Homo sapiens: one gene and its partners. The protein of the gene in region 3 interacts with the protein of the main gene of each other region in a pairwise test. Each region holds a gene or a part of one and is shown on either strand. Other genes may lie near its edges. The genes, in order: MGAT3, PLAAT2, UBAC1 and TRIM2.

Region 1 (8,457 bases), on a different chromosome or scaffold from region 3:
AATCTCCTCAGGGCAAGGCCTATGTCCTCTCTGTCCAGCACAGTAAATTATTACCCCTACCTGAGGACACTGTGTTCCAAGACCTGGTCCCCACATGAAGGGCTTGGAGATGGCTAAGATGAGGGGCTGCATCACTGCACTCTGGGGAGCAAAGGGGCTCTGGCTCTTGGGGAGCACAGCAGGATACCCTGAATGACTTGGCTGGGCGGGTGGGTGCCCATGAGGCCAAGAGGGGCTGTCTTTGCAGACCACCCTGCCTCTGGCCACTCCTCACTGCTTATGTAGTCTTCCCAGAATTGCATGAGGACCACGCAGTTCCCCCACCCTCAGCTCTCTGCCGTTCACGTCCAGCCCAGCCCTCTCGTGATTCTCATGGCCGCTGCCCAGTGAAGCTGGCCTGGCCCGCCAGCTGGCATCGGCATCCTCGTTTTCCAGGTAATAATACCGCAGCCAGCGATCTCTTGAGTGCTGCTCAGGTGCCAGGCACCCTGTGTGCATCCTCTCATTCAACCCTCTCTGCAACTCATTCCATTCAAAATTCTCCCCCATTTGATCACACCTGGAATCCGAGCACTTTGGGACATAGAGGCAGGAGGATCACTTGAGCCCAGGAGTTCAAGACCAGCCTGGCCAACATAGCAAAACCTCATCTCTATTAAAAACTTTTTAAAAAATTAGCAGGGTGTGTTGGCTCACGCCTGTAGTCCTAGCTACCCAGGAGGTTGGGGCAGAAGGATCCCTTGAGCCCAGGAGGTTGGGGCTGCTGTGACCTATGATCACACCACTGCACTCCAGCTTGGATCACAGAGTGAGACCCTGTCTCAAAACAAAAACAAAAACAAAACCTCCCCATTTCACAGATGTGGAAACCGAGGCTCAGAAAGCTGACTTCCTGAGGTGGTCCAGTTACTACAGAAAAAGAAATCATCAGGGTTGGGCGAGGTGGCTCACGCCTGTAATCCCAGCACTTTAGGAGGCCAAGGTGGGTGGATCACTTGAGGTCAGGAGTTCGAGACCAGCCTGGCCAACCTGGTGAAACCCCATCTCTACTAAAAATACAAAAATTAGCCGGGTGTGGTGTCGGGCACCTGTGGTCCCAGCTACTCGGGAGGCCGAGGTGGGACAATTGCTTGAACCCAGGAGGTAGAGGTTGCAGTGAGCCAGGATGGCACCACTGCACTCCAGCCTGGGCGACAGAGTGAGGCTCCATCTCAAAAAAAAAAAAAAAAAAAGAAAAGAAAAGAAAAGAAAAAGGAATCACCAGTGTGCCTCAAGTAGCCCTGACCACACCAAGGGCACCAGGCAGACCCTTAGAATGGGTCTGAGCCAGCGGCATCCCCCCAGCCAGGTCTTGGCTCCCTGCCGTCCTCAGGACCAAGTGCCAGCTCCCTGCTGTGCCCTCCCACCTCACCTCCACCTGGCCTCCCTGCCCAGCCTCTGCCCCGTTTTCATCTCACTTCTTCCAGGGGGCACCCACAGTGCCTGACTGTTCCCACTGCCACCTCTCAACACACGCCAGACACTCACACCTCTGAGCCTTTGCTCATGCCATTCCCTTGGCCCACAACGCCCTTCCCACCTTTCTCTACCCAGAGATCTCTGGCAGCTTCCTGTCGTCATCTCTTCCAGTAACCTCTCTCTTCCTCCTGGGCTGGGACCCCTCTTTCAAACCTTCCTAGGACCCAGAGCGGCTCCCCTTAGCACTCCTTAGACTGAAAACCCCCTCAGAGCTGCAGCTCCTGGGGGTGGGGGCTCTCCCCTCCATCCTTCTGCTGGGCTCCATGTCTGGATCTTTCATAACTGCTCCCCCTCCCCAAACGACACGCCAGTGCTCACAACTCCCCCATCAAGGCGAATCTGGACTGGTGTGTCCCAGGAATGAAGTGGGGAACCAGGGAGGAATCCCACTGGGGTAGTGTGTCTGCCCACACCCCATCAGGGGCCTTCAGGGGCATCTTCCGGGGCTGGGGGTCATCCGACCTCAGACCACTAGGTCTGGCCGCGCGGCATCCCTTCCTGCTGCACCCCAGCTCAGGAACCCCACCATACACACACCCAGGCGCACTCCCCTCCCCACTCCCGGTTCCAGAACTCACTATTTGCAGATATTTATAGCGCCCTCCCTCAGCCAGGTTCCCTCCCCCGCCCTGGGCAGAGCAATGCAAGGAGCCGGGGGCCCCCACCCCGGTAAATGGCCGGGGGCCCTCTCCACATTTGCCTCTGCCTGGTCCCCAGGGGTAGCTACGGCCGCAGCCCCCGCACCCGCCCAGCCCCCGACTGCGCTTGGGCCTCGGCTGCCGCCGCCGCAGTCTGGGGTCGGGGGTGGGGAAGGCGGGCGCGGAGGCCTCCCACCCCAGCCCCGCGCCGCGCCGGAGGTTGTGGGGGAGCCGCGCCGGAGGCTGGGGGGTGCCGCGCACAAAGCACGGCTCGAGCCCCGCGCCTCGGGGACGTCCCCCGCCCGGCCGTGGGAGGGGGTCGGGCGCTGAGGCTCTGCCCTCCGGGGACCGGGGAGCTCGGAGGAGCGGCGGGTAGGGGGAGGGGGCCCGCGCCGAGCGGCTTCCCCGGCATCCCGCCCCCACCGCGGCCTCCGGGCCCCCAGCCCCAGTGCGCCCGCGCCCGCCCCCTAAGGTCACGCTCGGGGAGTGGGCCGCGGAGCCGGGCGGGGGGCGCCAAGCGCAGCGCGGGAGGGCGGGCAGCGCGGGGATAGAGGGGCCGCGGCGCCCCCCAGGACGCCGGGGTCAACTCACCCATCGCCCGCTGGGTCTCAGCAACGGCGGCAGCAGCGGCGGCGGCGGCTCCGCGGCCCCCGGGGTCCCCGGCGGGGAGATGCTGGCGTCCGCCGCAGCCTCTCGCCCCATCCCGGGCTCCGGCGGCAGCGGCTGCGGCGGGCGCCCGGCATCGCAGGCAGCGCGGCCCCGGCCCGGCCCCGATCCCCTCCCCCCACCCCCACTTCCACCCCGTCCCGGGGACCCGGCGCGGCCGCTCGGCTGCACCCCGGGGCGGCGGCGGGGGCCCGGCGAGCGGACGGGCGCGGGGGAGGGACCGCGGCGGGCGCGCGGGGGGCGCGGAGGCGAGGCCGAGCGCGGCGCGCAGGGGTGCCCGCTCCCGCCGGCTCAAGCGGCTCCGGCCCCCACCCCGCCCCCTCCGCAACCCCCTCCCCTCCCCCGCCAGCCGGGCTCCGCCGCCGCGCCGGGCCGGGGGCGCCTCGCACCGCAGACTCCGGCCGCCGCCGCCCCGCGCCGCCCGCGCGTGCTGGATCGAGTGTGTGCGTGTGCGAGCGAGTGTGTGTGAGTGCGAGTGTGCGCGCGCCCCTCCTGTGACCGTGCGTGCGCCGGCCCACGGCCCGGGGCGGCCTGCGCGGGGGCGTGTGCGGGGAATGCGGGTAGTTCGGAGTGCGGGCCTGGTGTGCGTGCGGGGCAGCAAGTCCCGTTCTGTGTATGCGTGGACGGGTGCGTTCCGCAGCGTGCCCGGGTCGGTGTGACTCCGTGTGCCCGAGTCTGTGCCTGTGTGTGCATGGACGTGCAGATCCGTGTTGCGGTGTGTGCGTGGATGCGCCTGTGCCCGCGTGAACCTGGGCCGGGATTTCGCATAGGCATCTGTGACCATGTGCAGAGGCCTGGGCCTGTGATGTGTGCACGGTGCCGGGCCTGTTACGGTGTCTGCAGAGTCTGTGTGTCTGCTTGGGGCGTGGGTGACCGCTGTACACCGGCCTGTGTCCTTCCGTCCGACCCCCTCCGTCCCTCACATGCCCGAAGCCACCTGCGCACTCCTGGGGTAACTGGGGGGGCCTCCCCTCCCCCGCCCCCCTCACCCGGCCACCCTAGGCCCGGTCGGCCCTGCCAACCCTCTTGAGCCTACTCTCCTGCCACTTGCCCACCAGCGGTTCTCCGAGGGCCCACCGTGTCGTGCCCTGGCTCCTCGTGGCCTTGCTCTAGGCCATTCCTCTCAGGGCTCAGAGGCGTCCCCCACGTGTTTCCCGCCTTTCAAGTGGTTCCGTTCTGGGGCCTACAGAGCAGCCACTTCCTCCCGCGGTGCGAGGCACAAGGCATTGTGGGTACGCAGCAGACATCTCTGCGCCGCCATCGTCGAAGGTGCAGGGATGCGCTACCTATTCTATATCCCAGCGAATGTGCTCCAGAATAGTCCCAGAGGCCTTTGCTGAACCATCCGGGCTGCCTAGGGCTGGTCTACCTGCTCCAGGTGCCTCCGTGCCCAGCTTCATCCATCCTTGCTGAGGAGGCAGAGTGATCCTACTCCAACATTCACTTGAGCAGGTCACTCTCCTGCCTGCACCTTCAATGGCTCCCACTTGCCCTCAGCTTAAGTTCAGTGCCTGGGCGGGGCACAGGGAGCCCCTGGTGACCTAGTCTTGCCCCCTTCTTCAACGTCACCCTCACTGCTCTTTTCTTCCTGGAGGCTCTCTCTAAGCAAGGGTGGGCAAACCATTTGCTTTAAGAGATTGATTGTAAATCTTTTAGGCTTTGCCAGCCATATGGTCTCTGTCCCAACTACTCAACTCTGCCATCGTAGCATAAAATCAACCATAGACAATACGTAAAAGAATGAGCCTGGCGGTGTTCCAATAAAACTTTATGGACACAAAAATTTGAATTTCGTGTCATTTTCACGTGTCCAGAAACATTTTTTGATGTTTTCCCAACCATTTGAAAGTGTAAGATCCATTCCTAGTTCCTATCACTCTAAGCACATTCCATTATAACATCTCCATGGGCCGGGCATGGTGGCTCATGCCTGTAATCCCAGCACTTTGGGAGGTTGAGGCAGGTGGATCAGAAGGTCAGGAGTTCAAGACCAGCCTGACAACATGATGAAACCCCATCTCTACTAAAAATACAAAAATTAGCCGGGTGTGGTGGCACACGCCTGTAATCCCAGCTACTCGGGAGGCTGAGGCAGGAGAATTGCTTGAACCCAGGAGGCGGAGGTTGCAGTGAGCCGAGATCATGCCACTACACTCCAGCCTGGGCAACAGAGCAAGACTCCATCTCAAAAAAAAAATAAATCATCTCCATGACATGTGCTTAAGGTAATTGTCACTCCCCCAAAATCCAGTCTATTCTGCCCTGCAAAAATGTTGCCCTCCTCCTCTCCCCAGCCTGGCTGTTCAACCCTCTCTGCCCCTTCTTCTCCGGCCCCCAAAGAACCTTCAATTTCTGCTCAAATGTGTCCCCCTCCCCCAATTCCCCATGCCACAGCTCTCCCTGCCTGGGACTCATTCCCCTCTGGAAGGGACCGCCTCACAGACACTTTCCTTCCCCAGAACCTTCTCTCCCTCCCTGAGCCTTCAGCAGCAACTCTGGGCGTCCCTCAGCCCATGAAAGAAGTGCTGTTTCAAGTCTGGATTCTCCATTGAACTCGTTCTGAGCATCAAGAAAACCTTGACATTGGCCCCCAAGCACGAAGGCAGGCACAAAATAATCACATTCCTCCATTTCCATTGCTCCTGGCAAAGGGGAGGAGGACCTGCCCAAGCCCCAGCCCCTGCCCTTGAGGCCCAGTGAGAAGTAAAGACACGCCCCACTCCCCAGGGAAGCTGCCCTGCCCAGAGCTGGCCAGGGTCAGGGGACTTGCTTGCTCTCCATCTTCCCCCAGCTTGGGTCTTTGTTCTCCTGACCTTTCCAGATTCCCAAGCTTCTTGGGAGGCCGAAGTGGAGTCAGCCTTGTTGGGTTCATACCAAAGTCCGCCTCCATGTCCTCAATGCGGCACTCAGTGTGTTGGGCGCTGTGTGGCAAGTACATCTTCCCCACGCCCAGCCTGTCAGAGATAAGTAACTTGCTCGGTCACACAGCCACAGCTGGGCACACCAGGCCCCACCCTCCACCCTCCCAGCTCAGGCCCTGTGGTGCCAGAAGCCTCCCTCCCAGAGAGCTGGCCAGAAGGGTAAACATCCCCCAATTCCTTCCTCCCACATGGCCCCTGTCACTCTTTTCCCCTCCCACATTCACAGAGGCCTGGCACACAGTAGGCACGGAGGTGCTCAGCAGGTGGAGAAGCTGAATCCCAGGGAGCTTAAGACCTGGGTTCTATGCCAGCTCGCCAAGTGTTCCAGTCATTTCAATCCCTAAGCCTCAGTATCTTCATCTGCAGAATGGGACGAATCACTGCCCTGACATCGCATTGACATCAATGGAATCTGGTTCTCTCCATCCTCTCCCAGCCGTCCTCCAGGCCCCACGATGACGTGGGGGAGGCTGGGGCTCCAAGCTCCATGGTGATATGGGGGAGGGTGGTTGGTGGCCCTCTTGCCCCACTGCTCCTCTAGGGGCTGAGCTGCCTGACAAGGAGGCTGTGGGAGCTGGAGGTGGGAAAAGCCCAGATACAAGATTAGCCAATCTCAGGCGGTGTCTCCTTACAGCCCTGCTGTCCCCTTTCACCCAGGCCTTTTTGGCTCTGGGAACAATTGCTAGGTCTGTTACCCTTTCAGCAGCTGCTGCCTGGCCTGTGGGAGCCGCATTCCACCTCCCTGGGGCATCTCACTCCTGGCCCTGGGTCTCCAGGTGGGGAGGCTCCTCACCCATGCCATGAAAACCAAGCCACAGGCCAGGCGCAATGGCTCACGCCTGTAATCCCAGCACTTTGAGAGGCCAAGGTAGGCGGATTACTTGAGGCCAGGAGTTTGAGACCAGCTTGGCCAACATGGTGAAACCCCATCTCTACTAAAAATACAAAAATTAGCCGGCCGTGGTAGCACATGCCTGTAGTCCCAGCTACTGGGAAGGCTGAGGCACAAGAATCCCTTGAACTCGGGAGGTGGAGGTTGCAGCGAGCTAGGACCGCACCGCTACACTCCAGCCTGAGCAACAGAGTGAGACCCTATCAAAAAAGAAAAAGAAAAAGAAAGAAAGAAAGAAAGAGAGAACCAAGCCATCAAGCCCCAGCCCTGCCAAGGCTCCAGGTGGTCAGGGAGCATGGCGGTGCAGTGGGCAGAGTGAGCTGGCTCCGGTCGGGGCCCTCCGAGCTGCGCCAGGGCTCCACACTCAAAGCCTAGGCCCATTGGTCTGCAGAGTGGGCATAAAGGTGGCCACCTGACAGCGTGTGGGGAGGGTGAGGGAGGTGGGATGTGTGACAAGGTGGTGCTGGGCAGCACCGAAGGTGTTTGATAAAGGGTCCTTTGAGAAATTAAAATGAAATCCCAAGCCCCCCAACAGCCCCCCGTCTTGGCCAAGGGAACCCCAGAGAAACCTTGAAAGCTGAGTGCTTGGCTACAACAGAATGGGAGGTCAGACACTCCTCGATACAGCCCCTCCTGAACCCCTTCCTTAGGGAAGAAAGCCTGCTGACGGTTAGGGCTAGCCAGAAACCAGCCCTTTTGAAAGACTTCACCACTGATACCAACCAGCTGTCCGATGCTATCCCTCTTTTGCAGTTTTGACACAATAACTGACCATCATCCCTTCCTGATAAGAAACCATTGTCCAGACAGTCTAAAGTGGACGCCCAGTGAAGGTGTTCGTCAGAGATAAGTGACTTGCTCAGTCGCACACAGCCAGCCCTGGGCACAGCCGGGCACAGCCAGGCACACCAGGCCCCACCCTCCACCCTCTACCCTCCCAGCTCAGGCCCTGTGGTGCCAGGAGCCTGCCTGAGAGCTGGCCAGAAGGGGACACAGCCCCCAATTCCTTCCTCCCACATAGCCCCTGTCACTCTTTTCCCCTCCCGCATTCACAGAGGCCTGGCACACAGTAGGGTCCTGTGCTTCACCTTTTGACATCAGAGGGCTGAAAAACACCCTGCGATCACACTAACGCCACCATTTTTTTGCATGTGTGACTCACTAAGGGGCATGAAGCTTAATTGCACAGGTCCCTGTTTCTCCTTACATCAATATTCATGACTCCCCCTATAGCTTATTAAATATGTATATTCAGCCACCCTGCTCTGTATAAATTCCTGTTCCCTTTGCCCCTCCCTTGAAGCATGTGTTCCTGGCTTCTGGCTGGAAGCTATGCTTCCCAGCCTGTCAGAATGGCTGCCCTGCAGGCTGCAACCCTTTATGAGAAATAAAGCTCTCCTTTCCAAATTTGTGAAACTCATTGTTCTTCTGTTGGCGACTTCCTTCCCCAACACTGGCCAGGTGAAGTCAGATCTGTCCCCTTTCTACCCTCCCCCACATACACTCCATTCAGCTGAGCTTGTCCCATCCACTGGCAGCCCTCTGAAATGCTTGCAATTTCTCTGCCTTTTTTTTTTTTTTTTTTTTTTGAGACGGAGTCTCACTCTGTCACCACGCTGGGGTGCAATGGTGTGATCTTGGCTCACTGCAACCTCCGCCTCCCGGGTTCAAGCGATTCTTCTGACTCAGCCTCCCGAGTAGGTGGGAAGACACGTGTGCACCACAATGCCCAGCAAATTTTTTGTATTTTTAGTAGAGACAGGGTTTCACCAAGTTGGCCAGGATGGTCTTGATCTCTTTTTTTTTTTTTTTTTTCTTGAGA
Region 2 (8,866 bases), on a different chromosome or scaffold from region 3:
TGCTCAGTTGTACGCTATCTGAAGGAAGCAACTGCTTCTTACTCTTGCTTGTACCTCCATAACAACAAATACATAGGAGATCCCACGGAGGGATGCTCACCAAGTACAGTGAGTTGGTTCAGACTGAACCCCACTCTATAATGGAATAAAGGTCAATAGTCTCTCCACCAATTTACTGCAAAAGAAGAATAGCAGTTGCTACATCTAGCAGGAAAAAGCACAATTCATTCAGCATTATGTATTGAGTGCCTACTCTGCTAGACCCTGAAGTGAGGACAAGCACGTAACTGTGCATCTCTTCACATTCTTGATCTTAACCCTTGTGCTTAAAAAGAGAACCCATCCTTACTTGCCGGAGCCAGATGGACCACATAGCCATCTCCCACGTAGATGGCCCAGTGTGCATAGCCAAAGCGAGAAATCTCAATCAGGTCTCCAAGTCTCGGTCTTGGTCTGGCCTGCAACAGAAAAACCAGAAACAGGCAGAGGTGAGCCATCTGCAGGAAACATTCTAGGGCCTGACCTGCAAGGAGCCCCAGCTCAGCCTGCAGATTCCCTGTGCTCATCACCTGCAGGAAACAGGAAGGAGGGAGCACTCCTCACATATGTAGGAAGCACCTTCATTTACTGGGGCTGCAGGACTGAAAAGTTGCTCTTCAGGGGACAAGGAGGAGATGAAGAGAGTATCTTTGAGGGAGATTTTCATGCATGTGCAGCACAGGAGTGTGATGGAGTGATGTGCCCAGGCTGAGTGTGAGTGCATTTTATGCACAGAGTATGTTTTTGTCAGCTAGTGACTGCATGATTCCGAAGGAAGCCTAAAATGCCTCTTTAAGGGCCACCTGCCATGAGCCTGGGCCCAAGTGATTCCTACAAGTTCTAGAGGTCTGACTTGCAACGCCCAACATGTCAGAGGCAGGCGGACACTTGACCCACATTACACACCACTCCTTTGGGTGAAAACTATCATTACCCCCACTTGACAATGAGCACATGGAGTCTCAGGAACGTTAGGTAACTTGCCTAATAAGTAGAAGAGCAGGAATGAAGGGTAGGGCTGAATGTTTCCAACATTAATGCCTTTAACCATCCCAGAATGTCCTAGGCAAGCCCAGGGCAGCTGAAGTCTGAGCTCAGGCTAAAATTAAAGCAAGGGATGGCAGGGTGTGTTTGGAGTTGGTGGTAGGGCAGTGCCCCTCTGGAGGGTGCATGGGTGCGAGGAATGTTGCCCTGGCCACACCCAGAATGGGAGACAGCCCTTGCCACATAAATTCTGTTTCCGGTATGCTCTGGTGCCAGCCAGCACCCCTCCTCCCCCTATCTCAGCTGAGCCAAGCCACAAAGGAGTTGAACTGCTGCCGAGGGTGGTGAGAGTGCCAGCCAACTCAAAGTCTGGTGGGGAGCTATAGTTAAAAGTAAAGCCTTTCATTTGAAGTAATTTGGATGGAATTGGAGATCATTATTCTAAGTGAAATAACTCAGTAATGGAAAATCAAACATCCTATGTTCTCACTCGTAAGTGGGAGCTAAGCTATGAGGACGCAAAGGCATAAGAATCATACAACGGACTCTGAAGACTGAGGGAAAAGGGTGGGAGTGGGTGAGGAATAAACGACTACACACTGGGGCTGGGTGTGGTGGCTCACGCCTATAATCCCAGCATTTCAGGAGGCCGAGATGGGTGGATTGCCTGAGGTCAGAAGTTTGAGACCAGCCTGGCCAACATGGTGAAACCCCCATCTCTACTAAAAATACTAAAATTAGCTGGGTATAGTGGCAGGTGCCTGTAATCCCACCCACTTGGGAGGCTGAGGCATGAGAATTGCTTGAACCCGGGAGGCAGGGGTTGCAGTGAGCAGAGATCGTGCCACTGCACTCCAGCCTGGGCGATAGAGTGAGACTCCATCACAAAAAAAAAAAAAAAAAAAAAAAAAAAGACTACGCATTGGGTACCGAGTACACTGCTGAGATGATAGGTACACCAAAATCTCAGACATCACCACTAAAAACTAATTTATGTAACCAAATACCACATGTTCCCCCCCAGAACCTCGAAATTTAAAAAAAAGTAAAGCCTTTGACTAGAGGGGTCAAGAGTCAACTTGACCAAATAAGGGACAATTTGAGCATCAAAAAAAAATAATAAAAATAACTGTACACAAACTGAAACACATCAAATATGTTAAAACCCACGTGTTCATAAGGATATTTTTTAAAAACACTAGGCATCTTTGGAGGATGGAAAAGAATCACCCTATTATTCCAAAAGCTGGTAAATAAAGGAAAAGATTCAAGCATTTCCTAACTGAATTGTCCTCACGGAATGCAATTTAAAACTACAACAAACCCCAAAGCTACAAACCAATACTTGTAAGGTAGCCATATATGTATGCAAAAACAGAAAAATATTTGGAAGAATACGCACCAGGTTGTACAGAGGGGAAAGGCTGTACAGATGGGAAGGATGGTCAAAGGGGACATTAGTTTTTATGCTAATAGTTTTGGTTTTTGGCTTTTGGCTTTTTTTGAGACATGATCTCATTTTGTCACCCAGGCTGGAGTGCAGTGGCACTATCACAGCTCACTGCAGGAAGCCTCAGCCTCCCCAGCTCAAGTGATCCTCCCACCTCAGCCTCCCAAGAAGCTAGGACTATAAGCACATACCATTATCCTTGGCTAATTTTAATATTTTTTGTAGGGATGGGATCTCACTATGTTGCCCAGGCTAGAGTTTCGGTTTTTCAGACAAAGTGAATGTGTTCACGTATTTCTCCTGGAATTAAATACATTCTTTCTTTTTTAAGTCGAAGCTTTAGAGTCAGAGCCTCCTAAGTTCGAATTCCCTCTCTGACTTTTGGGCAGCCCCCTCTCTATACTTACCAGTATATCATTCCTCCTATCCATGAAGTTGGCAGTAATTATGCCTACTTCATAGGATTGCTTATTAACTACCTGGTGTGGATTAAATAAAAGAAGTGTTTAGCATGGTGTCTGGACCCCTGAGCACTTGGGAAATGTGGCTGCTATTGGGTCTAAAGGAAGAAGGAAACTAAGAAGGAATTGGAGGGAAGGAGGGAAAGTAGAGGGACTGGCCCTGCCTGGAGGCGAGGGAGACAGAGCCCTTTCTGACAGCCCCCATTGCCACCCACACAGCTGGAGCCCTTTCCCTGGACCCTCCCTCCCCAGCTAATCCCTCCCACTGAGGATGATGTGACAGAGGAGGCGGCCTGTGGGGTAAACCAAGGGCTGCTCTCCCTGAGCCCACCATTCCTGCCTTCAGGAGGCTTAGCAGAGCCACTGGTAGTTTGGCCAGAGGAGGGCTTGGAAAAGCATAAACGCAAACTTTGGCCACAGTAGAACCAGACCCCATGCGGCAGCTGAGGCTGGGGAGCCTCCAGGGTCATAACCCAGCACCGTGGTTCCTTCCCACAGTGTCTGAGAGAGCCAGACCCCCAGAACTCAGCATGTGCCCATGTGCCCTCCATGCCAGAGCTGTAGACCAACAAGAATACACATAATCATCACTAATAGGGTGGTTGTTCCTCAAATCAAAGCTTTAAAACCGTTTCTGGGGACTTACCAAAGCCATCCTTCCTTCAAGATGATGTCTTGTGTGTTGCTGACTCTGTGTCCAGCCTTAAATTAGCTCTGAGTTTCACTTTCCCTGTGACCCAGCCCATATACAACTATTTCAGAACATAGGCTGGGTGCGGTGGCTCACACCTGTAATCCCAGCACTTTGAGAGGCTGAGGCGGGAGGATCACAAGGTCAGGAGATCGAGACCATCCTGACTAACACGGTGAAACCCCGTCTCTCCTAAAAAATAGAAAAAATTAGCTGGGCATGGTGGTGGGCACCTGTAGTCCCAGCTACTCCAGAGGCCGAGGCAGGAAATGGCGTCAACCCAGTAGGCAGACCTTGCAGCGAGCAGAGGTCGTGCCACTGCACTCTAGCCTGGGCGGCAGGGCGAGACTCAGTCAAAAAAAAAAAAAAAAAAAAAACAGAACATAGATCAAGGTTCATGTAAAATTTTCCCTGTCTTCAAACAGGGGCAGAGCACATATCAAGTAGGCAAGGCGGCATGAAAATCAGCCAGACAGAAGAGGAATCAGAGCTCAGGATATAGATTGAGAAGGACTTAGTGGCAGTGTGGTCAGGGGCACAGCTGACAATCACCAAGTTTCAGGTGGAACAAGCAAGATCCAGTGGTTGTGGGGGCAAGGGAGGATATAGAGACAGAGACCATGGGGGAAAATTTCAAAAAGGAGAGAGGAGCCCCAGAGAGACTGAGATTCATGCCTCCAAATTGGGAATGATGGTTGCCGGGACAGGCAAACATTTCCACCAACCTCAAACCCCATGGCCCTAGAAAAATCGTATTATTGGAGGCACATTCCTCTACCCTGGAAACAGAGTGAGCCTGCTTGGACAGCAGTATAGAAACCACTCCCCTTTCTGCCTCTCACCCACAGTTCAGAAACACTCATTCCACACCAAATGGAAACCAAAACCCAGTACTGGGTGTGTAGAGGTTGCTTCTTTGAGGCACCTGCATGCTTATCTCACCCAAGCTCCAAATAAGTATCTCTTCTGTCATCTACATATAGTTGTCCGGTCCTGAGCAAACTGGACAGGAAGGGGTGGGTGGGGCTGGGGGGAGCTGAGCATCCTCACTGTGGGGCATGGGGGCGAGGACCAATAACTTACCCTCTTCAGGCTATAAACAAACAAACAAACAAAGAGCTTTAGTGTGGGGATGCAGATGGACTGGAGCCAGAACTGGAAAACTCTTTGGGAGCCACAGCAGTTCTGCATGACCAGCTACTCCCTCAGCTCACGTGGTCATGTGGTCTTGCTCCCATGGAGACGGCCTCTCTCAGCACCTCCACTCCATTCTCCTCTGAGTTGCAGTGGGACAATCTTCAAAGTATTCCTTCTGGAGGGAGACAGTAGGGTTGGCTTGGCTAATTATCTCCTGCCCCATTGTCCAGAGACCTCTGGGCCGGTCCCACTCAGGCTTGCTGATCATCTTTTTAGGGGCTGACCTCCAGTCCAGCAATCTCAGTTCTTCCTATGCCTGCCCTCCCCTTGCAACCACATCACACCCCTGTTTCCTGGGGCAGGAGGACTTCCACGTGCTGTCTGCTGAAAGGATCTCAGGTGGGTTGGCACAATGACCAACCAGACCATGCAGGGCGGAGTTGGGGAGGAACATCACTGTACTCATGCTGGGGCTTGTGGCTTTTCACCGAATCCAAGCTGTTCAGAGTGTCAGGAAATTATGTCCAGGAGCTATAGGAAAGGAGAGTCTGCAAATCAAGGGCCAGTGGAATGAGAATTCTGCTGTCTCCCTACTGTTCATGCTGAGCAGGAAAGGTGACAAAGTTCTACTGACAGAGAACAGGGTAGGGCAGGCCACACCCAGCCTGCTGGTAAGCTCTAGGCCTACAGCCTGGAATACTTACATTTTTGTTCACATGCACGCTCTCTATGTTTGTTTAATTGTATAAAAGGCTATAAAAGGAAAGATAAGCCTCCATTCTCCCCACCTCCAGCCTCCAGCCTCCAGCAACCCAGTTCCCCTTTCTAGAGGCAATGTTATCTTTCTATGTACATGCCAGGAATATCTTGGGCTACATATAATTTTAATGGGCTTTGGCCGGGCACAGTGGCTGATGCCTGTAATCCCAGCACTTTTGGAGGCCAAGGTGGGTGAATCACTTGGGTCAGAAGTTCGAGACCAGCCTAGCCAACATGGCAAAACCCCGTCTCTACTAAAAATACAAAAATTAGCTGGGCTTGGTGGCGCACGCCTGTAGTCCAGCTGCTCGGGAAGCTGAGGCAGGAGAATCTATTGAACCTGGGATGCAGAGGTTGCAGTGAGCCAAGATCACGCCACTGCCCTCCAGCCTGGGTTACAGAGTGAGACTATGTCTCAGAAATAAATAAATAAATAAATAAAGGATTTTATTAAATCTTATATCCATATAGAAGAATAATTGCAACATAAGTATAAAACACTAGAAATAATAACAAAACAGGTACCAATAAACCTAGTTGAAGAAATAGAAAATAACCAATTTCTTAAATAAGCCCTGTGTCCCACAAAAACCTGTCCACAGATGTTCATAGCAGCCGTGGTGGTTAATTTGTTGTGTCAATCCGACAGGGCCATGGGGTGCCCAGATGCTGTGTGATGTCTGGGCATGTCTGTTGAGGTGCTTCCAGATGAGATCAGCATTTGAATTGGTGGAATGGGTGAAGCAGATGACCCTCCCTTATGTGAGTGGGGAGCATCAATCTGTTGAGGGCTTGATTAGAACAAAGCTAGAGGAATGAGAAATTCGTCCCCTTTTCGTCTGCCTCACTACTTGTGTTGAGATAGCTCACCTCATCTTCTGCCCTCATACTGGGATTTACTCTATCGGCTCCCTGGATTCCCAGGTCTTTTGACGCAGACGGAATGATACCACTGCCTTTCCTGAGTCTCCAGGGTCTCTAGCCTGCAAACAGCAGATGGTGGGACTTCTCAGCCTCTGTGATTGCTGCAGCAGCTAATTTTTTGTAAGAAATCTTGATGGGGCCGGGCATGGTGGCTCACGCCTGTAATCCCAGCACTTTGGGAGGCCGAGGCGGGCGGATCACGAGGTCAGGAGATTGAGACCATCCTGGCTAACTCGGTGAAACCCCGTCTCTACTAAAAAATACAAAAAAAAACAATTAGCTGGGCGTGGTGGTGGGCACCTGTAGTCCCACCTACTCCGGAAGCTGAGGCAGGAGAACTGCATGAACCCGGGAGGCGGGGCTTGAAGTGAGCCAAGATGGCGCCACTGCACTCCAGCAGAGGTGACAGAGCGAGACTCCATCTCAAAAAAAAAAAAAAAAGAAATCTTGATGGATAGATAACCTCCCATTGGTTCTGTTTCTCTGAAGAACCCTGACTAATACTCAGCATTATTCATAATTGCCAAAAGGTGACACCCAAGTGTTCATCAACTGACGAATAAATGACGAAATGTGGTATATTCGTATGATGTGATATTATTCAGCCATAAAAAGGAAGTACTGATACATGCTAAAATATAGAGGAAGCTTGAAAACATGATAAGTGAAAGAAGCTGGTCACAAAAGCCATATAGTATATGATTCCATTTATTTGAACTGTCAAGAATGGGAAAACACACAGAGACATAAAGCAAATTCATGATTGTAATGATTATTTAGGGATGGAAGGGCTAGGGGATTCAGGTTGTGTTTCTTTTTAGGTGATGAGAAGGTTTTAAAGTTGATTGTGGTAATAGTTTCATGACTGTGAACATGCTAAAGGGCATCGAATTATATACTTTAGTAAGTGAACTATATGGTACTGAGGCAGGATAGATAGTCAAGGAGATGACCACGTCCTTGGGACATGGCAACCACACTGTCAACAGCACAATGAGCCCTGTAACCATGTTCATTGGGACATAGCAACCGCACCAACAACACAACAAACCTCAGCACTCACATTGTAATCAAGCTCATCCAAGCAGAACTACCTTCACTGGGGACTTTCCCCTGTAGAGAGCATGTGCATTTTCACTTTGCTTGTCCTCAGAATGACCCTTTGCTCATTATAATAGTAAAAAACACACCCCTGGGTAGAGATTTAAGACGGCAATGAGACATGCAATGTATGAACAAGCATGTACAGCAACTGCTCATGTGCACCCAGAGGACCACCCAGAACATGATTACTAGGAACACACCTCTTCCCACCCACTATGAATAATCACATAAGACTCTCATAAAGGGAGTTCCCTCAGAGCCAGTCTTTGCTGACTCACTCTTGATCAGCCCACTCTGACTTATCTTTCAGAGTGTACCTTTCAGAGTGTATCTTTCAGAGTTTTATCTTTGCACTAAATTACTTTCAGCTGTTTCTTTTTACACTCAGCTTTCAGAGTGTTCTTTCTCTTTTGCAATACATTGCTTTCTGTTGTTCCTCTATGGTTGTGTCTCTTGTTAAAATTATTTTAACCAAGAAGACAAGAACAGAGGTCTCACAATCACCGTCAACAGTATGTAAATTATACCTCAGTGAAGCTATTACCAAAAAAATTAACCCTGTGTTCCTCTTCCTCCTAATGCAGTTGTAGCCACTCTCCTGAATTTTGTCTCTATTGTCCTATTGATTTTTAAATTTTTTTATAAACACATCCCTTAATAATATATAAATGTAATCCTTAACAATATACATTTAGTTTATAATTTTTAAAGTTTGTAAAAGTAGAATCAAACATCAAGCATTCCATAACAATATTTTTGGTTCAATATTAGGTTTCATACCCATGTTGATTGGCCATAGCTATTCATTCATTTGCATGGTACTCCCATGTGGCAAATGGGAATGTGCCACAGTTTACTTATCCTGACTCCTGTCAACAATCACTGGAGGTTGTATATAGTCCATTCTCACACTGCTATGAAGAAATACCCAAGACTGGGTAATTTATAAAGGAAAGAGGTTTAATTGACCCACACTTCCACATTGCTGGGGGGCCTCAGGAAACTTACAGTCATGACAGAAGGCAAAGGAGAAGCAGGCACCTTCTTCACAGGGCAGCAGGATGGAGTGAGTGCAAGCAGGGGAAATGCCAGATTCTTATAAAACCACCAGATTGGCCGGGTGCGGTGGCTCACGCCTGTAATCCCAGCACTTTGGGAGGCCGAGGCAGGCGGATCACGAGGTCAAGAGATCAAGACCATCCTGACCCACATAGTGAAACCCCATCTCTACTAAAAATACAAAAATTAGCTGGGTTTGGTGGTGCAAGTCTGTAGTCCCAGCTACTCAGGAGGCTGAGTCATCAGAATCGCTTGAAC
Region 3 (5,937 bases):
TTATTTTTATTGTGAGATACGTACATACAAAAGTGTATATGATGATGTAACTTTAAAGAAGAATAAAACTAATAGCCATGTATCTACTATTCAGCTTTGGGCCTGGGGTGCCCCTCCCCTATGCACCTCATCCCTCCCTCCGGTGTGGCCGTCGCCGTGGCCGCGGCTTACCTCTCTGCTTCCCGGTAGAGTTTTGCCGTATTTGTGTCTCCTTAAACAATCTCTCATTTGCTGCTGCCTTTGTGTAAGTAGAATCATGTTTTAAGCAGGCCTCTGTGACTGACTGCGTTCTTTGTGGGGGTTGTGGAGTATTTTCTTGATGGAAGGCACTGGGAACCCAGGGCTCGTTGGGTTGTCTACATGTGGTGCCACTCCTGATTTTTTTTTTTTTTTTTTTTTGAGACAGAGTCTCGCCTTGTCACCCAGGCTGGAGTGCAATGGCATGATCTCGGCCCACTGCAACCTCCGCCTCCCAGGTTCAAGCAATTCTCCTGCCTCAGCCTCCTGAGTACCTGGGATTACAGGCGTGCACTACCACGCCTGGCTAATTTTTCGTATTTTAGTAGAGACGGCTTTCACCATGTTTGCCAGGCTGGTCTCGAACTCCTGACCTCGTGATCCACCTGCCTCAGCCTCCCTAAGTGCTGGGATTACAGACCTGTTGGTCCCCAGGAGCTGAGTTCCTGGATGTTGGGAGGGCCTTTGCCACCCGAGCAGGCTGGAAGTGTCTCTGGAGCTGCGATGGCCGTGCCCTGATCTTGAAGGCTGGCCTTCTTTCAGAAGCGTATTGGCCGCCTGTAGAACCTTGGCTGTGAGAGACCTTCCGCTCAGCGTTTGGCCTGCTTTTCTCTTGGATTGTTTTCTTATTCATTCAGAAAGGTCCTCACCTCCTGGATGCTGACCCTTTTCCCATTATTTGTGTTGCAGATGCCGTTGTTCAGTTTCTGGTTTATTTCCTCACACTGATGGGCAGAATCCCGTGTTTTGATGTCCTTCAGTGTGTCTGTATTTTTTTTAAGATGTGAACCTTTAAAGAAAACCCTCCATGGCTGGGCGTGGTGGCTCACGCCTGTAATCCCAGCACTTTGGGAGGCTGAGGCAGGTGGATCACGAGGTCAGGAGTTCAAGACCAGCCTGGCCAAGATGGTGAAACGCTGTCTTTACTAAAAATACAAAAAATTAGTTGGGCATGGTGGTATGCACCTGTAATCCCAGCTACTCTGGAGCTGAGGCAGAGAATTGCTTAAACCTGGGGGGCGGAGGTTGCAGTGAGCCGAGATCGTGCCACTGCACTCTAGCCTGGGCGTCAGAGCAAGACTCCACCTCAAAAAAAAAAAAAAGAAAAAGGAAAACCCTCCTATCCGAAAGTCAGAAACACGTTTTCCTTTTATTTTTTTTTCCAAAAATGTTAAAAGTTTCTCTTAATTTAAGTCCATAATCTACCTAGAAGTATGTGTGTGGTGTGAGGTAGGGATCTTCTTTGTACCCAAATTCTAAAACTTGAGAATGGTCTTTTGTGAGTTTATTTTTATTCTTAGTGATTCCTTTCACACTGAAAGCATATTCCTCCTAGCTCTCCAGCTGTTTGTATACCTTAGGATGTTAGTGTGTGCTGCCTTGGGGTCTGTCCAATAACTTTTTCTTTTTTTTTTCCTAATAGAAATAGGCTCTTTCTCTGTCACCCAGGCTAGAGTGCAGTGATGGCGCCACTGTCCATGCAAGATCTGCCCCCAGCACACACACTTGCCCACCTCCATATTATAGACAAGACCTTCATTGTTTTAACTTGTATTCCTCTTTTTTTTTTTTTTTTTGAGATGGAATCTCGCTCTGTCACCCAGGCTGGAGTGCAGTGGCACGATCTCAGCTCACTGCAAGCTCCGCCTACCGGGTTCACGCCATTCTCCTGCCTCAGCCTCCTGAGTAGCTGGGACTACAGGTGCCCGCCACCGTGCCCGGCTAATTTTTTGTATTTTTAGTAGAGACAGGGTTTCACCGTGTTAGCCAGGATGGTCTTGATCTCCTGACCTCGTGATCCGCCCGTCTCGGCCTCCCAAAGTGCTGGGATTACAGGCTTGAGCTACTGCGCCTGGCCACTTGCATTCCTTTTGGTTATTAGCAATGTTGAATACTTTTCTGTTGGCCATTGCATTTCTTCTTTTACATACTGTCTATGCGTGTCATCTATTTGTTTTCCTTCTTTTTATGGAGACAGGGTCTTGATCTGTCACCCAGGCTGGAGTGCAGTGGTACAATCACAGCTTACTGCAGCCTTGACCTCCTGGGCTCAAGTCATCCTCATGGGTAGTTATGACTACAGGCATGCACGACCATGCCCAGCTATTTTTTTTGTTGTTGTTGAGATGGGGTCTCGTTTTTTTGCTCAGGCTAGTCTTGAACTCCTGGCTTCAAGCGCTCCCCCCACCTCTGCCTTCTAGAGTGCTGGGATTGTAGGCGAGAGCCATTGTGCCTGGCACATGTGTTTTTCAATTGCAATATTAATCCTAGAGCTTCCTTAATAGCTTCTTGGATATTAGGCACATCTTCCTTTGTTGAATGTTGTAAACTGTTTTTGCTCTCTAATTTTGTGTGGCATTTTCTGACATACAGAAGTTAGGATATACAGAAGACAGTCCTTCCTCAGGTTGGGCATGGTGGCTCATGCCTGTAATTGTAGCACTTTGGGAGGTTGAGGCAAGAGGATCACTTGAGCTCAGGAGTTCGAGACCAGCCTGGGTAACATAGCAGGACCTCCTCTCTACTAAAAAAGCAAACAAACAAAAAAACAAAATCAGCCAGGAGTGGTGGCACACGTACCTGTAGTCCCTGCTACTCAGGGGACTGAGGTGGGAGGATCATTGAGTCTGGGAGTTCAAGGCTGCAGTGAGCCATGATCACTCCACTGCACTCCAGCCTGGGCAACAAAGCAAGTCGCTGTCTCAAAAAAAAATTAAATTCAAAAAGGAAAGTCCTTCCTCAGATAAATAATCATCTGTGTGGTTTTTCATATTTAACTCTTTATCTTTTTGTTCAACTCTTTCATCCTTCCAGAATTTATTTTGCTGTTTATTGAGAGGAAATGGGAAATTAAGTTCCCCGCCCTGTGTGTGAAACAGCTGTTTCGCACCTTATAGTTTGTTCTTTCTGAGTCTTTTTCTGGGATTTTTATTTTTATTTTTTGAGACGGAGTCTCACTCTGCTGCCCAGGCTGGAGTGCAGTGGCGCAATCTCGGCTCACTGCCAGCTCCGCCTCCCTGGTTCATGCTATTCTCCTGCCTCAGCCTTCCGAGTAGCTGGGATTATAGGCGCCTGCCACCACGCCCAGCTAATTTTTTATATTTTTAGTAGAGACAGGGTTTTACCGTATTAGCCAGGATGGTCTCGATCTCCTGACCTCATGATCCGCCTGCTTCGGCCTCCCAAAGTGTTGGAATTACAGGCATGAGCCACCGTGCCTGGCTTTTTCTGAGATTTTAAAGTGGTTTTTGGAGACTTTTAATCAGAACACCAGAGGATTGTTTTAAGGCCTGGGGATTGTCCAATCATGAACAGAGCCAAGTTGGGTTCACTCTGAGCTCTGTGCTCAGCCATGGGCTACTGGGCCGTGAATGGCTGTGAATTCTGTAGTGAGCACTGTCCCTGGAGCCTGTAGACCTGGGGCCACTTATGCTGAAGTGCGTCCATGTGTGTCAGGTCAGCATGGAGCCATCGATCCTGGCAGAGGGGCTGGCAGAACGCGTGCTCCTTCACAGTGGGTGGAACAGAGAGCTTTTTGCTAAAAGCCACCTGTTTTGGGGAAACAGTTTTGTAAAGCTGTTAAAACCCAAGTTTTCATTTTGAAGAAGTGCTGTGTTGCATTTTTAATGTGCTGGTTTTTTGAAGAAGGAATTTTCTGAAGGCTGAGCATTACGTTTTTCCAGTTTGTTGTTAACTTTGCAACAGTGTCTGTGTGTGTCCTTTCTGCATCTGCTGACCTTCTCGGGGTGGGATTGGAAGTGGAGTTGTTGGGGAAGATGATTTTTGAGCCCTGGCGGCTGCCAGACAGCTGCCGAGAGTGGGGGTGCCATGAGCACGCACAGGCACACTGCCCACCTGCCAGAATTGAGTGCATGACTCTCTGTGATCAGATCTGATTTGATGGGTGCATCCGATGGAGTTGGGTGGGTTTCAGCCTGAGAGTGCACACTTAGCAGTGAGCTCTGTGTGGCCTTTGTATTGGAGACGCACCCTCTTCATTAGGAAGCTGCCGAAGAGGAAAGTCACGCCTGTGCCTGTGGGCTGAGTGGGGGCGTGGGCACTCAGGCTGGCTCTGTTTTCCCTGCAGCATTTGAAGACATGCTGGAGAACCCACTGAACAGCACCCAGTGGATGAATGATCCAGAAACGGGGCCTGTCATGCTGCAGATCTCTAGAATCTTCCAGACACTAAATCGCACGTAGGTGGCGTTGTTCCACTCGGCTATCAGGCCACAGCAGCCCCCTGGTGCGGCCCGAGACCGGGCAGAGTGGACCTCACCTGGAAACTCACCTTCAGCGCCTCAGCCCTGGACTGTTAGAGGTGCTGCAGCTGCTCCTGCTCTCTGATCTTATTGCTTATAAACTTTGGTGACGGTAGTGTGTAAGGCCGTATTTTTAGCATCTGACAGGTGTTTACAAAAAAGTGGTTGTCGCACTGGGAAGTGGAGTGATGGCCTCGTCTCCAGTGCTCCTCTGGGCTCTTGAGTTGCTGCTTGAATTGCCGTGTAGACATTTGCTTGGAGAGTCCACTTGTTATTTGACGGAGGTAGGTTTCAACCCAGAGTTAATGTCAAGCATGCTAATTTAACTAGTCACTCACAGATGACTTTTCTTTAATAAAGTCCCTTTTCCTATTTCCTGTCTTCGTCTTTTCTTGGTGCCGCACAAGAAACCCGTGCGTCCCCGAGAGGCCACATCCCCGCGGCTCCGTGCCGGCTGCTCTGACCCGGGGCGGGCACCGGGGCCACCGCAGCATGTGGGAGGCCTTGTGGCCATGTTTGGTTGGCAAAGCCTCGTGTTGTATTGGGTTTAAGGGACTGGAGCTGAGCCCGTATTCCTGGGACACAGGTCCTGAGCCCAAGCACGGCTGCCTCCGCCTACCTCTGGCCTCTTCCTCCTTTTTTTTCATTTTAAAAAACATGACCGGTGTCTTAAAATGAGAAAATGAATTTATTTTGTTTTTTGTGAACTCTGCTCATTATTGTTGCTGGAAGCAGTCAGTTCCGAGCTGTTTGTTTTGAACTTCTCTTCTGAACCAGCCCCCTCCCCTTCTGAACTCTGCTTGCATTGTAGCTGAGTAAGAATGTTTTCGGAAAATGTTTCTCTCCACACATCTAGGTCTTTTCATTGTTTTTGAGATTTAGATTTAAAACTAAAGTTAATTTAAACTCTTTGGGCAGAAATATTAAAAATGCTTTTCAAAAGTAATGAATCTCGGCCGGGCGCGGTGGCTCACACCTGTAATCCCAGCACTTTGGGGGACCGAGGCAGGCGGATCACGAGGTCAGGAGATCAAGATCATCCTGGCTAACACGGTGAAACCCCGTCTCTACTAAAAATACAAAAAATTAGCCGGGTGTGGTGGCGGGTGCCTGTAGTCCCAGCTACTTGGGAGACTGAGGCAGGAGAACGGTGTGAATTCGGGAGGCGGAGCTTGCAGTGAGCCAAGATCGCGCCACTGCACTCCAGCCTGGGCGACAGAGCAAGACTCCGTCTCAAAAAAAAAAAAAAAAGTAGCGAATCTCACTTCTTTTTGAGACGGAGTCTCAAAAAAAAAAAAGATGCCTGTCTACTACCCTGCTGCCAGGCCACAGGCCCTCGGCCCGCCCCACGTCAGCAGGGTCTAGCCAGCCACAGTGCCCTCCTTGCCCGCCATCCTCTTTTGGCAAACTTGTGAGTCGGAAGAGAATGTTCTCCTCA
Region 4 (8,032 bases), on a different chromosome or scaffold from region 3:
TATATACACTTGAAAGTTGCTGAAAGAGTGGATTGTAAGTGTTCTCTATAAAAAAATTGATCAATATGTGAGGTAATGCATATGTTAGCCTGATTTAGCCATTCAATAAGGTATGCATATATCAAAACATCATGTTGTACACCATGAATATATACATATTTGGAGATTAGGTCTTTGAAGGGGTGATTAAATTAAAATGAGGCTGTTAAAGCGGGGCCCTAATTCAGTATGATTGGTGTTCTTATAAGAAGAGGAAGAGACAATAGGGGCTGAGCCACAAAGAGATGACTATGTGAGGACAAAGAGGCAAGAAGGTGGCCATCTGCAAGGACAGAGGCCTCAGAGGAAACCCACCCTCCCAGCACCTGGATTTTGGACTTCTAACTCTAAAACAGTTCCAGTTTTTCAGAACTGTGAGAAAATAAATGTCTATCATTTAAGTCACTCAGACTGTGGAATTTTGTTATGGCAGCCTTAGCAAACTAAGACAGCATCTTTACTTCATTGATAAACTCAGACATCGTGCTGCATGCCAGGCACTGTTCTAAGTTCTTCACAAATGTTTACACATTTCAACACCTTTCCAGCAGTGCCAATACATCACTATGGCTGCATTTCTCAGTAGGTACGAGGGGAGAAGATATACCCCCTTGTCCCTGGGGTGGGATCTGGAGAATCAAAACCAATATAGTTTGAGCACAGGAAACTCCTGAAAGACATGTCTCTTTCCTCAAGTGGGTATCAGAGGTGATGATGATTATGATGATGATGATGATGAATAACAAGAGTAAAATCTTAGCTACCATTAATTGAGCTCTTGCTGTACACAGGCACATGCCACGTATATTACAAGAATTCTCTCATTTCACCCCCAACAGCAACCTTAAGATTTAGGTAATATTTCATTCCCTTTGTTTTACAGAGGAGAAAACACTGTTCAAAAAGGGTAAGTAAGCCAGTTGCCCAGCTGGTGAGAAGAATCAAGATTCCAACCCAGATCTGCCCAATTCCAGTTCTGAGTCTTTCACTGCACATGGCCTAGGGGAGTAGACTGGGGTCACTTGGTGGGAGGTGTGGGGGATGGAGGTTTAAATGGGAAAATGAATTTGTTCGTAATGCAAGAGATCAGTGGGGAGCCAGCAGGTTTTTTGAAAAGAAAAGGTAGTAGGGATAATCTAAAAGCCTTAACAATTACATGTACAAAAACAATAGCTCTCATTCATTTAGCTCCTCCTACATGTCAGGCATTCAGCTTGGAACTTAGAATAGTTCTGATAAGCAGATATTTTTGCATTTTCATTTCATGGACATAGAAGTTGAAGTACAGGGAAGCTGAAAGATTTGCCCAAGGCTCAAGTAAGTGGCTGAACCGGAGTGGCAGACCTGGGCGCCTCCCAGTCCTGCATCCACCCAAGCTCGTCCACTCTGCTCTGGTGGAGAATCAACAACCCCTGCACCCATATCGCACATCTGGCCGTGAATGTATGAGGGCTTCCATGCTCTGAACAGACAAGTTACATATCATATCACCGTCTTTGCGAAGATTCAGCCTGAAGCATTAACATTGAGCAGCTCTGCCCAAGAACGTTCCACAGAGCCTTCATTTCCCAAGACGTTCCAGGGAAAAAGTTCTATGGTTGGAAGTTTGGATGTGCTGCCTGTTATCTATCCCTCTCCTGCCTCAGAGACCTACAATGTACATCAGCAGATTCTAAAGGTTTTAAGAAGTTCTGCAATTTAAAAAAGTCCACTTCCTTCATTTAGCCTAAGGTTTCCCAAATTTATCTGAACCATAGAATTGTTTTTCTACATGTGCCAGCTAATATACAGTGCAGCACTCTTTCAGAGATACTGCATTGTTAAATGGAAGAGGGAGGAAAAGAAGTCTGCTGGAGCTACTTTTTGAAGCTAACTAAAATGCAGACTTTTCTCCCTTAAGAATCATCAAGCCCTTTGCTGTTTACATTTAGTTGCTTTCTACTGAGAACATAGAAAGTTTAAAAAGAGAGAGACCATAAATCAGAGGAGGGAAGGGCTATTTGCATTCCTAACTCTCTTGGCTCATCGGGTACCTTCTTGCTTCCACCCCAACCCCGCCTCAACCCCATTCTTTCTCCAAGTTTCCACCCCTCCTCCTCTCCTTGGGGCTGCTCTCCAGCTACACACAGCTGGAGGTGGTTGCAACTTGCAATGCACACATCCCCTCCCTCCTGCAATGCCGATGCAGTGACAGGGAGGCATCACATGCTCTGCCAACCGTACAGCCTCAGCTCTGGCACAAGAAGACCCTCCCAGGGAAGAGGGGCGTTGGTGGTGGGGGTTAGGGGGAGGATTGCCAATTTTTCCTTCAAGATTTTCAGATTACGGGTGCTATGATTTTTCTATTTCTCTTTTTGCTTATTTTCAGCTTGTAATTTCCTACAATGAATATGCAGCACTTGTGTCTTAAGGAAGAGGAAGAAGAGAAAGGAGGGAGTAGGGAGGAGACTAGAGGCGGAGGAGAAGGAAATACCATCTCTGGAGGAGACTGCATAAGCTCGACTAACAAAATATATCAAATTTTATAGCAGTACATCTCCTAACACCTGCAGGTAGAGTTCTGGGCTGCAGTGTTGCTATTTGCAATGACACGTGCCCAGTTACCCCTTAACCAGTGCCAGCTCAGGCGTCGGGCACAGAAGCCCTCTCCTTACCCACTCGAAAGATCAAATCGTCTTCGATGGGATTCTCTTTTCGTTTTCCAGTGCTGTACATGCTTGCGGGTCTTTTCACAGCTTTCTGCTTGACGTGGCCGCTCCCCGGGGACTTAACGCGCCTCTTCACGCCTTCTGTGGTGGGAGACACATCAGCGGATCGGATCACTTTCAGCTTAAACGGGCTGCCTCGGATGTGCTGGTCATAGAGTCTCAGAGACAGGGTAAAGTCCCCTTCCTTCTGGACAGTGTACAAAAACTCATAGGTGCCGTTCTTGTTGTCCAGGATCTCCCCGTCTGCCACGCTCCCGTCGGGGGTGCTCAGTTCGGCGGTGAGGTAGGCGTTGCCGGTTTTGCACAGCTCACCGTCTTTGTCCTTGGTGGTGATGGTGACGGACATGGGCTGCCCGATGATGGTCTGCCGCAGCCCCTCGCCCGTGGCCACTGTCTCTGAGGCAACGGCGTTGGTGGTTAAGATCGTCCCGAGGTTGTGGATGGACTTCTTCAGCCCCTCGGTTTCCACGATGAAATCCAGCTGGTCGTTCTCCCGCGGGTGCAAGGGGAAGTCCTGGTCGGCCAGCTCGTTCAGCTTCTCGCTCATCTGCTTCTTCACCAGTAGGACCTCGGTCTCCGTGCCATGGTTGAGGGCCTGCGCTGTGAAGTTGCTGCAGCTCTTAATGCTCTCCTGCCCCTGGAGCAGAGTATCCAGCTGCGACTGGAGGACCTGCGGGAAAACCGGAGGCCTGGTGAGCTCGTCCCACAGGGCGGGGCCTAGCCCGGGGCAGTGCCCTCCACCGGCGAGAAGGAGACTCTACACCTGCCCACGCAGGTGGCTCTGAGCAAGCGGTGTTTGTCAACCCAGGGAACCCAGTGCTAACGCAAAGTCCTAAACTGCATTCCCAGTACCTTTTCGAGGTTTCCCTTCCGCCTCGCCCTCTCTTCCACACATGTATTTCTTGGCTCATGTGTTTTGGAGAGGGGAAAACAGAAAGGTCACTACCAAGAGCATAGCAAATTAATTGCTATGCCTGACATCTGAAATATTCATTATTCAGTATCTTTCCCCATGTCCCCATGTCCATCACCACCTAAAGGAACAGGAAGTAAACAAATGAAAACTCTCCACACCTGAACATCAGAGGTTTCTCATCCCTGTTTTGTGAACAGACATGCAGAGTTAAACAAAGGCTGCAGTCAGGGTTCATTTTGAAGCTGACTAACAGGTTGGTGTGGGTGAGAGAGCAATTAAGAAACTATTTCATGTTATAACTGAGGAATGAAAACAATCCAGTTTAACTCTAAATGCTAAAAGCATTACATTATATTCAACCTTGCCTCTTGTCAAATTATAAACTAGTACTTAAAGTCACAGAGTCATCGAATTTTGCTGAAAATAGGGGAAAAAATAGCTGGATATTACATTCAGTGAAAACTATAGTTTACTATACAATGATGACACTTAAGGACCCCTTGTTGCTATTAGGAAACAATAAGCTAGTGCCCTTGGATATCATGTCTCTTCCAGGACATCTGTAATGATTCTGGTCTTACTTTGTGTTTGAGGCCATAGTTGACCTCCAATTCCATAAGCAGCACACTCTTGCGCACATTTAAAGTCTTCTGGAGCTCATCAAAGGTGGAATGAATGTCATCCACGATGCTGGCCTTTTGGTTGGTTAACTGATGAATGATTTCAGAGATGAACTGAAGAGCAGAATCTATTTCTGGGAGCCTGGTGGACAGTTGTTAAAGGTCGTTATTTAACCTCAACCCAGAAATATTCCAAAATCTATCTAAACACTACATTTTGTTTAAAAAAATTCTATGCCTTTCATCATCTTTAAAAAAACAATAACCAGAGAACAGAATAAGATATGACATAATTACTGCCTTAGAGAGAAGAGATTTTGTCTCTTCAGAGACAATCAAAATTGTCAATTTCAATCTACCATCAATTGTCCAATTTTAATAATTAATTAAGTGTATAGACTTGAAGCTCTCTGAAAAGCCATTCTGGCCAGGTTAATTCTTCGTTGCAGGGGCCGTCTGGTGCATTGTATGATGTTTAACAGCAGCCTGTCCTCTACCAGATACCAATAGCTCTCCCCGCCCTGCCTCCCTCTCCCCAACCCCCTGCCAAAACACACAGTTGTGATACCAAAAATGTCTCCAGGCATTGCCGAATGGCTGAGAACCACTATTCTAGATAGCTGTATCTTTTACCCTAGCCACATAAAACATTTATCCAAACCCAGTTTCTTGAGAACTTCTCGTAAGTTTCCAAGTTCTTTGAATTACTATAGAACAACCACACTTTTCTCACTACAGCTATCAGTGGAGAGATTTATTTTGTCTGCTTTTCTGCTGGCTTCTCATTTCCTCTCTTTGGTCTTTTTCATGCACCACTCAGCTACTCTGTTCTTTCATTTCTGTGCCAAAGAAGGAACTTGGAAGCAGGAAAACAAGGAAAATTAGCAATCACTGCTCAAGACCATTTTGCAGAGCTCAGACAGAAAGGAGCCAATCACAGCCAACAAAATGGCCTGTATGTGTGTCAGGAACAGCAGATAAGGAAGGCTCCTCAGAGAGCCTGGTTTCAGGGATGAATTTCAGAACTCTCCTGAGAGCAGTTTATTTGAGTGTACTTTAATTCATGTAATCATACTTAGGTACTAAAACAAAAATGCCACTCATAAGGAGGCTGGAGTTCTACCAACAGGCAGAAGACAACCTTCCTCACTCATTAGTTTATGACAACAAATCCATGATAAAAGAACTTATTTACCCACAAAGCCTGATATCTCAAGGGAAATATGAACCTACTCTTGTACCTAGACAAGAGGCCATGAGGCCAGGCCTCAAGTACAGGCAGCCAGTTGGGGGTTTGGGGAGGGGTCCCCCACCTTTTGTTGACAGCATCCAGCTGGACCTGGAGCGAGGCCTTGTGCTGTTCCACCACATCCTTGAGTGGAACTGTGGGGTGCTCTGCGTGCTCCCCCTCCGTGCACTCCCGACACATGGCAGTCTCACAGGACTGGCAGTAAAATTCCATCACCTGTGGATGACACAAGAAAAGTTCCTGGTTCTGGGCCATGGGTTGAGGGCTTACTCTACACTAAGCACTTGCCTTGCAGTCTCTCATAATTAAATGAGAGCCACCCCAGAATGTCAGCATTATTAAGTCCAGCTTCACAGGAGAAAAGGAAGGACACATTTTTATGTGACAGGTCTCAGAAATGGAGCTGACTTCTAAGCTGCTTCTATAACCATAAAACCAGCTTTTGGGTATCCACTGCCCCAAGGCAGTACAGTATAGGGCTGTGGTGCTCAAACATTTTTATATCAGGACCCCGTTATAATCTTTAAAAATTATTGAGGACTCCAAAAGAGCTTTCGTGTATGTGGGTTATATTTATAGATATTTCTTATATTAAAAATTGAAACTAGGCTGGGTGCAGTGGCGTATGCCTATAATCCCAGCACTTTGGGAGGCCAAGGCTGGAGGATTACTCGAGGCCAGGAGTTAAGACCAGCCTGGGAAACATAGCGAGACTCTGTCTCTACAAAAAATTTTAAAATTAGTATTTAATCAAATTTTTAAAAATTAGAACGGATAAAAATTTTAAAGTATTTAATTTATTAAAAGCAGTAATAAGCCCATTAAATGTTAATGTGAATAATGTAATTTATGAAAATAAATATATTGTGAAAAACAAAAAAATTTGTGGGAAAAATGGTATTGTTTTCCATTTTTGTAAATATCTGCAGCGTCTGGCTTAACAGAAGATGGCTGGAGACTTGTATCCACTTCTGCATTGAGTCCATTGTGATAGCATACATCACATAGCCTGTGGAAAATTCCACTGTGCACTCTTGAGAGAACGAGAGTGAAAAAAGCAAATAATGTCTTCATATGATTATGAATATAGTATTGACCTTGAAGACTGCTTGAAAACGTCTTGGGACCCACAAGGGTTCCTGGACCACACTTTGAGAACTGCTACTGTTTGGCTAAGAGACTTATCCAAATAAGAAGTCTGGACTGAGCAGTTTGTCTCCTGGCTTCACCACTTATTTAGCTGAATGACCTTGGACAAATTTTCAGCCTCACTGTGTCACAACTTCTGTCTCTGTCAAATGGAGATAGTAACAGTAACCTACTTCACAGGGCTACTATGAAGAATAAGTAGGTTAGTATGCACGAAGAACTCAGATGGCACCTGGCTTTGGTACATAATAAGTTCTTAATATGTAGTAGCTGCTGTGGGGATGATGATGATGATGATGATGACATCATCTGCTTACCTGAAAATAAAAAAATATGACCCTGACAATGACGAACTTTCAGTAACAATATAATATAAAGCCAGAAAATTAGCTTCCTTGCAGAGGTATTACCTTGTTTTCTCAGCTGGAAATAATGTCTTCCAGTTTTCAATTCCCAAAGCACTTTTAGGAGGAACTTTTTCTTGACATATAACACAATACAGAAAAGGGCATAAATCTTAATGCAGCTTGATGGATTTTCACAAAGTGAAGGCAGTCACCAAATCACTTTTATTTATACCCAATTTATGAAATAAAAGATTTTAAATTCCTAAGCCCAGGAACTCTCCCACCCAGAGCCTAGATAATACCATACATTTAGTAGGTATTCAATAACACTACTGAATGAATAAATGAGAGGAGGCTCTTAGCCATGATTCGGGTGGCATGTGTAAGACCAACCAAGGGACACCTCCTTCCTCATTAAGACTCACTATGTTACATAGTGCTTTCTGGAGAAGATTCTCCTAGGAATAAAGCACTCAGCTTGCTCATACTACATGTGTTTTGGAAAAAACCTTTTCTGGTGAACCAAATTCAGATAAAAGTCATTCAAACCATGTCCAAGATAATTTTAAATTTCATATTTATCATAGTTTCAAGTAGGTACATAGTAAGAGGTTTAGAAAGACACTTTTTTTTTGTCATATAAAGACACTTTTTTTTTTGTCATATAAGGCTGTAATTTCATGTACTTTGCTCCTCTGCAGGCCTTTTAGGAATAGGCTTGAAACATTAACTGGAAATTTCTTGTATGCATTCTCTGCTCAAAAACATTTCTCAGCTGGGTGCAGTGGCTCACACCTGTAATCCCAGCACTTTGGAAGGCCAAGGTGGGAGGATCACTTGAGGCCAGGGGTTTGAGACCAGCCGGGGAACCACAGCAAAGCTCTGTCTCTAGAAAAAAATTTAAAAAATTAACTGGACGTGGTGGCACATGCCTGTAGTCCCAGCTACTTGGGAGGCTGAGGTGGGAGGATTGCTTGAGCTTCGGAGTTCGAGGTTGCAGTGAG

What was found.
Region 1: the proteins of UBAC1 (region 3) and MGAT3 interact in binary tests that used the Homo sapiens proteins (3 or more experiments, as listed by UniProt).
Region 2: the proteins of UBAC1 (region 3) and PLAAT2 interact in binary tests that used the Homo sapiens proteins (3 or more experiments, as listed by UniProt).
Region 4: the proteins of UBAC1 (region 3) and TRIM2 interact in binary tests that used the Homo sapiens proteins (3 or more experiments, as listed by UniProt).

What each region holds. Positions count from the first base shown.
Region 1 is NC_000022.11:39,451,848-39,460,304, reverse strand, and holds the start of MGAT3 (beta-1,4-mannosyl-glycoprotein 4-beta-N-acetylglucosaminyltransferase), read right to left. Parts: upstream 3,294-8,457; 5' UTR 2,748-3,293; intron 1-2,747. UniProt on the Homo sapiens protein: It is involved in the regulation of the biosynthesis and biological function of glycoprotein oligosaccharides.
Region 2 is NC_000011.10:63,559,736-63,568,601, forward strand, and holds the start of PLAAT2 (phospholipase A and acyltransferase 2), read right to left. Parts: upstream 3,645-8,866; 5' UTR 3,590-3,644; coding exon 3,581-3,589; intron 459-3,580; coding exon 350-458; intron 1-349. UniProt on the Homo sapiens protein: Exhibits both phospholipase A1/2 and acyltransferase activities. Shows phospholipase A1 (PLA1) and A2 (PLA2) activity, catalyzing the calcium-independent release of fatty acids from the sn-1 or sn-2 position of glycerophospholipids.
Region 3 is NC_000009.12:135,931,903-135,937,839, reverse strand, and holds the end of UBAC1 (ubiquitin-associated domain-containing protein 1), read left to right. Parts: intron 1-4,324; coding exon 4,325-4,440; 3' UTR 4,441-4,871; downstream 4,872-5,937.
Region 4 is NC_000004.12:153,290,698-153,298,729, reverse strand, and holds part of TRIM2 (tripartite motif-containing protein 2), read right to left. Parts: exon of another isoform or gene 7,917-8,032; coding exon of another isoform or gene 7,824-7,916; exon of another isoform or gene 7,092-7,823; intron 5,749-7,091; coding exon 5,597-5,748; intron 4,426-5,596; coding exon 4,245-4,425; intron 3,418-4,244; coding exon 2,694-3,417; intron 1-2,693. UniProt on the Homo sapiens protein: UBE2D1-dependent E3 ubiquitin-protein ligase that mediates the ubiquitination of NEFL and of phosphorylated BCL2L11. Plays a neuroprotective function. May play a role in neuronal rapid ischemic tolerance.